Homo sapiens: one gene and its partner. The protein of the gene in region 1 interacts with the protein of each later gene in a biochemical or structural test. Each region holds a gene or a part of one and is shown on either strand. Other genes may lie near its edges.

The links.
Region 2: the proteins of RCC2 (region 1) and ERG form a complex in vitro, tested with the Homo sapiens proteins (one large-scale study listed by BioGRID).

Annotation. Positions count from the first base shown.
Region 1 is NC_000001.11:17,431,959-17,437,284, forward strand, and holds part of RCC2 (protein RCC2), read right to left. Parts: intron 1-5,326. UniProt on the Homo sapiens protein: Multifunctional protein that may affect its functions by regulating the activity of small GTPases, such as RAC1 and RALA. Required for normal progress through the cell cycle, both during interphase and during mitosis.
Region 2 is NC_000021.9:38,397,478-38,401,889, forward strand, and holds part of ERG (transcriptional regulator ERG), read right to left. Parts: intron 3,169-4,412; coding exon 3,097-3,168; coding exon of another isoform or gene 2,885-3,096; exon of another isoform or gene 2,595-2,884; intron 1-2,594. UniProt on the Homo sapiens protein: Transcriptional regulator. May participate in transcriptional regulation through the recruitment of SETDB1 histone methyltransferase and subsequent modification of local chromatin structure.

The DNA.
Region 1 (5,326 bases):
GTGTCTGTAATCCCAGCTACTTGGGAAGCTGAGGCAAGAGAATCGCTTGAACCCAGGAGGCAGAGGTTGCAGCGAGCCGAGATCACACCATTGCACTCCAGCCTGGGCAACAAGAGCGAAACTCTGTCTCAAAAAGAGAAAAAAAAAGTTGGGGGGAGGGAAGTGAAACAACACGGAAAGGGAGAACAACTTTGGTTCATTTAAATTATTTAGAAAATGACCTTAATCAGAGGGTGGCCCAGCCCCTGCAGCACCCACAACTCAGGTTACTTGAATTGGAGCCTAGCTTCCCCTGGTTATCTGCCCTTCTTTGTTTAACTGGCAGGCCTGGCTGGAATATGCTACAGGTCTATATTCAATGGCTTCTGTTGAAGTCCCTGTGGAAGGAGAGGCCTCTGGGTCCTCTGCCCAAGCCTACCAAGTTGGCATGGAGGGGGCAGTAGAGACCCAGGAAGGGTGCTAAGGCACTGGAGACCAAGCTCCCAGGCCAGAGGGCAAGCCTAGAAAAGAGCCCTGGAATGCCAGCAACTGCAGACCAGGCAGGCGGAGGTTCATGGGCACCTGTGCTCAGTATGAACCATTGAAGTCAAACCACCCTACACTGAGATGCAACCACTGCAGCAAAACTTCACAGTGCTGAGGCCACACCAGAAGCCTCAGCTCCATCAGGCCAGAGGGCATGGTTCAGGGGCAAGTTCAGACAGCCAGAGCTTAACCGCAGTGGCCTTGGCCTTGGGGAGGGAGTTTCCTGGGTGACCTGGACATTTGGTCAAGGGCTCATGAAGACTGATCCATCAAGCTAGCTAAGCATTTATAGGCAAACCCAACCACGCCAATAAAAATGTATTTGTGGGCCGGGCATGGTGGCTCACGCCTGTAGTCCCGGCTACTCGGGAGGCTGAGACAGGAGAAGGGCATGAACCCGGGAGGCGGGGCTTGCAGTGAGCCGAGATCGCGCCACTGCACTCCAGACTGGGCGAAAGAGCGAGACTCCATCTTAAAAAAAGAAAAAGAAAAAGAAAAAGAAAAAAATATATATATACACTCACACACACATATATATACACACACACACACATATACATACGTGTGTATACATATACATATATACGTGTGTATGTGTGAAAAACCCCGGTAAACTGAGTCTACTCCAGTGACGGTGGTCAGATTCCTATGAAGGACATTAACTGTTATTCAAGTTTTTACGTCATGGATCCTATTTCCTCACACATTAGATGGAGGTTAGTGTATTTCGTTATTATTTACATAATTGTTTGCTCTAAGCTGCTTTCTTTTATTTCTCTATAACTTCTTTCCTCTGCCTTATGTGGAATTAACATTTAAATAGAGTAACAGAGAACTCCCAGCACCCCTTCTCACTTAAGGGGTGCTCCTCTTCCTCAGAGACCAGAAACAGCCAATCGTGGGAGAGACTCCCGCGCTTGCGGGCTCCACCCGGGGCGGCGGGGCAGGGCGGGGGTGCCAGTGGGTGTGTGGGTGTCTGAAGCTCAGTGTGCCCTCCCAGGCGGAATCCAGCCTTCCCTGATGGGCCTACGGATTGTTTTTTTGGACGAACTCAGTGTCTGCGACCCTGCTTGTGTATAAAGGCCACGCAGCAGACAGCCTGGCAAACAGTCTGCCCAATGAGATGAGTGATTTTCATGTCATTTCACCTGGCTGCCTCCAGCAACTTGGTCACATAACCTGGGCAGAGACACACAGAAATGGACAGAAAAGGCACTGAGCTTCTTCAATCAACAAAATGGGATTTCTAGTCTAAAGCAATTTTTGAATTATGATCCAAATGCAAGGTGCGCGTTTACGGGGCCCAGAGTCAACCTTTTAACATAGGTCCATGTAGAAGACCGCTGCTCCGGGGAGGTAAGACCCCCGGGAACAATGCCGGCATCGACCAATTACCTAAGGGCCATCAACTGAAACAGACTTCCGGGTTGGCTTTCAGTTTTATTTATTTGCTCCTTTCAGATTCAACACATCTGTCTCAGGGTCCACAAAACCTTGGCAACCCAAGACTGGAAAAACTACAAAGACCTGGGCAGCTTGCAACACTCACCTGTTTTGTAGGATCTGGCCAAGGCTGCTGCCTTTACTTGCTTTAGGAGGTTATGAAGTGCGCAAAGAATTAGGACTGAATCTACCCTAGTGTGACACTGCCATCAATATTTGGAGTTCCTGGCATGCAACTTCCCAAATCCTTGGAATCTCCAAAGCAATGTCTTTTTGTATGCTAATGACTGACACTGGCAGCCCCCAGGCAGCTTCCGGATGGGGCAGTGGGAGCCTAGGGACTTTCAGCCCCATCCTCCAACCTCAGGAGGGAGATGACTGAAGGTTAAAGTGATGATCAATGGCTTAATCTACCATGCCTACATAATGAAGCCTCCGTTAAAAACCTGTAAGGACCAGGTCACAGAGCTTGTGGAGAGCTGAACATGTACCAGGTGGGTGGTCTGCAGAGGGCACGGAAACACAGTGCCCCTTCTGCCACATCTAGCCTTACAGGTCTCTTTATCCATAGCCTTTGTAATATCCTTTATAATAAACTGGTGTTTCCCTGAGTTCTGTGAGCCATTCCAATAAATTAATCGACCCCAAAGAGGGGGTCATGAGAACCCCAACTAGAGGCTAGTTGGTCAGAAGCTACCAGGGACTGGACTTGCAACTGGTGTCTGGGGTGGAAGGACAGTCTTGGGGACTGAGCCCTCAAGATGAGGAAATCTACCTCCAGGTGGATAGTGTCAAGAGATGAACTGGAGGACACCCAGCCGGTGTGTGCTGCAGAACTGATTGCTTGCTTGATAGCAGGGGGAGACCTCCCTTTACGTCTAGTCACAGAAGTCTTGTGTTGGGAGGCGGGGCGTGGTGGCTCACGCCTGTAATCGCAGCACTTTGGGAGGCGGGCAAATCACGAGGTCAGGAGTTCAAGACAGCCTGGCCAACATGGTGAAACCCCATCTCTACTGAAAATACAAAAATTACCGAGCACAGTGACAGGTGCCTGTCATCTCAGCTACTCAGGAGGCTGAGGCAGGAGAGTTGCTTGAACCCAGGAGGTGGAGGCTGCAGTGAGCTGAGATCACACCACTGCACTCCAGCCTGGGAGACAGAGCAAGACTCCATCTGGGGTGGGGGGTGCGGAAGAAGTCTGGTGTTGGTTGTTGAGTGTGGCCGTGAGAGCGGAGGAAAAAAGAATTTGAATTTTTTCTTAACACCTAGGCAATGACAACGCTCATCTGCCATAAGAATGTTCTATAAAATGCACATCTTTTACTCAAGGCAATTCTGCCCCTCAACAATGTAAGTATTTGGCTCATCTTCTACAAGCCCGACACCTGCAGCTTTGGGGTCACTGAAGGCAATATGGTTTTGGACATTTCCTGGGCGGCTGCTTTCACACAGACCTCCTCCTAGCAACCCTGAGCGGGGCAAGGCATGCAAAATGCTCAGTAAAAAAGGTTCTTTCTGCAACAAGGACTGCTGTCTGCCTGTGGCAGCACACAGGGTCCCTAGGACTGCTCAACAGAGAAACAGAGACCAGAAACCTGGGGCCAGGGAGACTGGGCAGGAGGCCAACCCAGGACAAGGGGCAGAGGGCTGCCCTAGGCCTATGGAAAGGCAATGGGGCTGCATGGACCCAGCCCCGAACATGGACCAAACTCAGTAGATGCTAACAAAACTTAAACGTGGGGCACTTTGGGAGGCCAAGGTGGGTGGACCACCTGAGATCAGGAGTTCGAGACCAGCCTGGCCAACGTGGTGAAACCCCGTCTCTACTAAAAATACAAAAAATTAGCCAGGTGTGGTGGTGGGCGTCTATAATCCCAGCTACTCGGGAGGCTGAGGCAGAAGAATTGCTTGAACCCGGGAGGCGGAGATTGCAGTGAGCTGAGATCGCAACATTGCACTCCAACCTGGGCAACAACAGCTAAACTCCAGCTCAAAAAAAAAAAAAAAAAAGCAAAACTTAAATGTAGGGTGTGCACTTTCCATGAGGCATAAAGGGGCATCATATGCTGAACCCTCAGCCTCCCAGGTGCTCTGATTCTAGAACAGCACCGACAGCCCAAAGGATGGGCATCATGGGCCCCTGTTGGTTTTAAGTGGATAGAGAAAGGAAGATGTAGCTTTTAGAGTCCTGCTTATACACATATGTAAAATAATAACGTATTTATGTGTATAAACAGGAACTTAAAAGCTGCAATGGACTGCTGTTTACTCACATTAAGACTTACAAACATGCAACCCAACACAGGGCTCGCGCCTGTCATCCCAGCACTTTGGAAGGAGGCTGAGGCAGGCAGATCACTTGAGGCCAGCAGTTTGAGACCAGCCTGGCCAACATGGTAAAACCCAGCCTCTACAAAAAGTACAAAAATTATTCGGGTGTGGTGGAACACACTTGTAATCCCAGCTGCTCGAGAGGCTGATCAGCACACAAAAATCACTTGAACCTGAGAGGCGGAGGTTGCAGTGAGCTGAGATCGTGCCACTGCACTCCAGCCTGGCCATAGAGGGAGACTCTGCCTCAAAAAAAAAAGACTAACAAATGTGCCATTTCCATTGACAAAGCAGCTTCAAGCAGCACAGCTGGAGACAGAGGTGGGCCAGGGAGAGCCAGTGTCCCTCACACACTCCCTGTCTCTACCTCCTTGGGTCAATCTCAGCATGGGGTAAGGATCTTTTGCTCTGATGGCAAAATTCAGCGTTCCAACAGTCTGGAGCTGTACAGCTGATAACTGCAGTCTTGGATGTCTAAACACAATCTTGCTTTTGGAAACTCACTCAAAATAGGATACAGGAGACGCGGAAGCTCACCTGGCCTTTCTTTTTAGTTTCATCCTAACATACTGTGTTCGGAGGGCAAATGTCTGGAGTCTGGCACAGCAGACTAGACGTCAAAGGAAAACAGTTCCTGTGTTCCAGTTTCTCAATACTTTGGCCATTGTCTAGTCTAGCCTGATCCAAGACCCCGGGCAAGACCTTTTGACAGCTTTTGACGGGCTCTCCTCCACTGCCTAACATGTTAACCCTTTCACCCAGAAGGCACTTTTACAAAGCATATTCCCATGTGCAATTTGCAGGGACATCAGGAGTTACAGCATTTGGAGATCCAGTTCCATCCATGACTTTGGACAAGGCCCTCGAATTCTGTGCCCCAGTTTCCCTATCTATAAAACGGACGTAGAAAATGTGTTATTAGACACTGCCTGCGCTTCTCTGGAGGAAAGCACTCTGCTGTTAACCCTTAAACACCCTTAGGAGATGGGCACTTATGGAAGGAAAAAAACCTCTCCGGGTGTCAGGC
Region 2 (4,412 bases), on another chromosome or scaffold:
GCCCCAGCTACTCGGGAGGCTGAGGCAGAAGAATCACTTGAACTCGGGAGGCAGAGGTTGTGGTGAGCCGAGATTGCACCACTGCACTTCAGCCTGGCAACAGAGTGAGACTCCATCTCAAAAAAAAAAAAAAAAAAAAAAGAAGAGAAAAGAAGATAAAAGAAAAGAAAAGGTAGGTTGGGGCAGTAACCCAGGGATGGGTGACTCACAGTGGGAAGGGAAGGAGGGAAGGGTGGTGAGGAAGTGCTGGGAAGGTGGATGCAGCAGGACAACACACATGTGTAGGAGTCTCTGCAGAAAGGGTGCGGAATGCTGTCTAATTTAACCAGTAAACCCTGAACACCACTGTCTCCTCTATCAGGGACTCTATAATGAAACGGCCACCATGCAGAGAAGAGACAGATTCTGGTCTAAGTAGAGTTGTTACCTAGGAGCCTGGCTTGCTTCATGGTCAGCACAATAACGCTGACCAGAGTTCGGTTCCCTCGGATGTGGGATTAGACAAAGGGTATGGAAATGAAGATCATGGCACAGCAAACCAAGAGTGGAGGAGACAGGGATTTGGGTCTGTATCCCCAAGGACCTTCAAAGAAACAGTCAACAATCACCTTTCTGAAAGTAGTCAGGTACCCACTGACCACAGGGATATCGTCAGATTCCCAGTGACCTCCCTCTGGAGCTCGTTCAGCTCTGAAAGTTAGTGATGCAAAAGCTCTTCCCCCTCAGCCATCACGACGTTCATTCTCCAGTTGCAGGTTCACAGCTTTTATCTCCACAGGAGCAGTCCTTTAAGGTTGATCGCTTAGCAATGGATGACCCGAGGTGTATAACTAGTTCTTATCTCCAAGTTCAAGTCCCTGAATAGGGCCTACAGTAAATAGTCCTCTGGCTTGTTCAGTCTGCTTTAAATTCTTTACAGGTCAGATACCAATATTTGTATTGGTTCTCATAATCACAGTAGCAGTGGTCAAAACAGGTTATTTCAGGTACAAACTGAGTCGCGAAAACATACTTGACTAGTAGTGGAGCTGTGGAAGTGTGCTCTCTCCCAGGTCACGCTCAAATTATGGGCCCATGGAAGACCACCATCAGAGCGGCATGGGAGGTGTCTGAGTTTGCCACCCTTGCCTTCCCTGGGTTGGGCAGAGAGGGAGTCCCAACCAACATCCTCACAGTCACCCTCTTCTCCATCCACCTGGATGGGCCATACCTTCCAAATCCACCATATCCTAAAATGTGAAAACAAAGCAGCTCCAGGACCCACTGTCTTAACCAGGTAGCATCAGTCAGCTGGCTTGTCTGACAGAGAGATTGTGCCAATGAATTTGGCCAGTGTTGTGATCTTTTAACACAGTTTATAATACTAGCTCACAACCCCTGGCTTTGCAACTCAGTCAGAGGCACCTATGAGATGTCTTAACATAAACAAACAAATACAAAATTAAAAAGTAAAAAAATTTTTAAAACCCTAGCCAAATGTTTTGGAAATAGTTTTTATTTTTTTAGTTTATATGGAAATATTTTTTAAATGCTCACAGAATTACAAAATCTCTAAAGCTTGAGTCAAACATGAATTTCTATTTTCCACTCGCAATACACGTGGTGGATGTCTTTAGGACCAATCTTGCAGACTCTAGGCACTGGGTCTTGCCCATGTTTCAATGGCCTGTGAAATCTTTTACATGACAGAGATGACTTACTACCTCTTAGTACCCCTTAGCTGCTAAGCCTTTCCATCATGCTTCCCAGGAGCAAGACAGTAAACTTTTTCTCTGACGTTAGAGAAGAGAAAATTGCCAGCCTGAAGTCACTAGGCAGTAACCAGGGCAGTGTCAGTATTTGAACAGCCTGAGAAGCTTCCTCATTCATTCTCTTTAGCTCCCTGGGCCCCCAGTCTTTCTCATTAGAAAGAAAGAGTAGTTGCCAAGCCTAGATCTTGAACCAGTTCGAACTGAGACTTGTGTATTCCGGATATGTGATAGAGTTTAACATGAATTCTGGAAGCATGTATGAATATGGAGAAACCATCCCACCACCCTGAACACAATGTCATCAGCTGTGAGGCTGGTACAATGATACCTAGCTTATCGGGCTGATGTAAGTCCCAGGGAGAGGACAAATGCTAAAGGCAAGCTATACCCTTCTGGGAAATGCCCTCTCTCCCTGCTCATTATTCGTCTGGCAAACATCTAATTCCCCTTTGCCATGTGGCCATTCCTCTGGAAAGCATCTTTATGCCTTTCATGGGGGATTGAGTTCCTCCCCACCCCTGCTCCTACGCCCTGTATTGCTAGAAGTGGTTCCTCTACCATAAAATCTATCACATTAGGGAAAACATTTATGTGTACATATGTGTCTCTCTGGCTCTAGGTCACTCTACTGAAACATCTAGAACTGGAGGCAAAACATTTCGGTTTGTTCACCATCATACCATCCGTGGCTGGCACAGAGGAGGCACTCAGCAAATGAACAAACCAAGCTGAATGAAGAAGTAAACTTTCTGAAGACAGGAAGCTTACTGAAGCCTGGTTCATCTATATATTCCCAGAGTCTAACACCACGCTTGGCACTAATGGGCACTTGATAGATGTTTATTTTTGCATGAATGGCATGTAAATTTATTACCTAATTAAATCATTTGGAGGACAGGCAGTAAGATTCAGATGTAAATACTACTGGTTGCATGCTTCTGCTCTGCAAGACTGGCTTCTTGTGACATACTGATAATCGGTCACTGTGAATCTGGGGAGTGTCCTTGTTTTGTGCTCTTCCCCCGAGGAGGGACAGATCCTTCTGTTAGTTCAAAAGTCGGCCTATTCCTAACTGCCAGGCATCCAGGATGCCTTCTTTGCCCATCTGTCTTTCTGAAAAGCTAGTTAAAGGGCTAATCTGCTCTTAATTCCTTTAGTGTGGTCTTTGAATGAAATGGTTTGAGTGGATTTAGTCTCCAAATCAACAGAGGCAGAATAAGACTGTCTGGGACTGGCTTCAGCTCCGGGATCAGCTCTCTTTGTATCACGTGACTTAGGGCACGGATCTCAGCAGGACATCTGGGATGTCTCTCAATGAAGAGATCACACAGGGGTGTTTTCGTACCTGGCCTAGTTGTAATTCTTTGCGTAGCTTCAGGATATACTGAAGTATTTGGGAAAATAAAAGCTGCACCCCCTGCAGACAAAAGGAAAGACAAACATGTGAAGGTCTTTTGTTGTGGTTGTCGATCTCAACATCAGCGCCAAATCTACTTTTCCCTATGACAACAAAGGGAAGAGACCTCCTCAAACCTGCCTTAACAGAGCTCCGGAGAAACAGACAGGTGCACCTGTCAGATTCTCAAGATGGAAGTGAAACTTGGAGCCTTGGTGTACTCCTGTGCCCCGTTTGCTATAAAGCGTTTTGTGTTTTGATTTTATAACTTCTTGATGAAGCCCTATCTGTGTCCCCCTCAATCCCACTTCCCACTGGGCAATCTCGTTTTATTAAAAAATTATATGGTACATGTTTTATTTTTCAACTTGTATAAAAACCCATAATATATTTTACAGAGCTTTTGGAAAGTAGTATCAAGCAATTATAAGTATTTAGCCTAAGAGTATATGGATTTTATTAATAATTAATCCACATCTCTATTCAAATGCATTTTCCCTCTCTCTCTTTTGACCAAAACTCATGCTGTTAGCTGAGAAAATTCCCTTTTCATAGTTCAGTCCATTTGGAATTTGTTGTCTTGTTCATTGGTTTCTTCCGTGTTTAACAATAGCAAAATTTAATATATTTGGAGCTTTTTTGAAACTTTCACTCAATGGTTAAAGAACTCATAAATAAATGTGAAATTATCAGAAAATGTGCATAGCTCAAAGGTGTTTCCTAAGAAGGGGAAGTAACTTCCTCTAAGTTATCTGTTATTTCTGGCCACAAGGTCACTAATAGGCTGATGTGTGCAACCAAAATTATTGAAAAAGTGTACTACCAACTCGAAGCAGGTTTTTTAAAACTTCAGATTAAAAAGACAATGTGTTGAATATAGAAGACCATGATAAATGAGCAATTTCATTGTAATACTCAAACCGGGACTCACTCACATTTTATATTTTAAAATAAAATGGTAAATATTGGGAAAATTGCGTATTTCTATGTGAGGGCTGATCGTGAGTTAACTGGCTGACTTGCAAGGCTTTCTGGCACTTCCCGTCTCCCTCCCTAGCCCGAGTGATTGTGGAGGGTCCCTGCAGCTAACAGAGTGGGGTGAGCAGCCGGTGGCCATGCTTCCGGAACTCTCTCCATCAGGAAGGAGCAGATGGATGTGAACCAGGAACACATTCATCCACAGAAAACCCAGCCTCTGCTGTGAGCGGGGGGCGAGGGAGGAAGGTTAGCCAGGATGAGGCACGGTGTTAAACCCTACTTAGGCT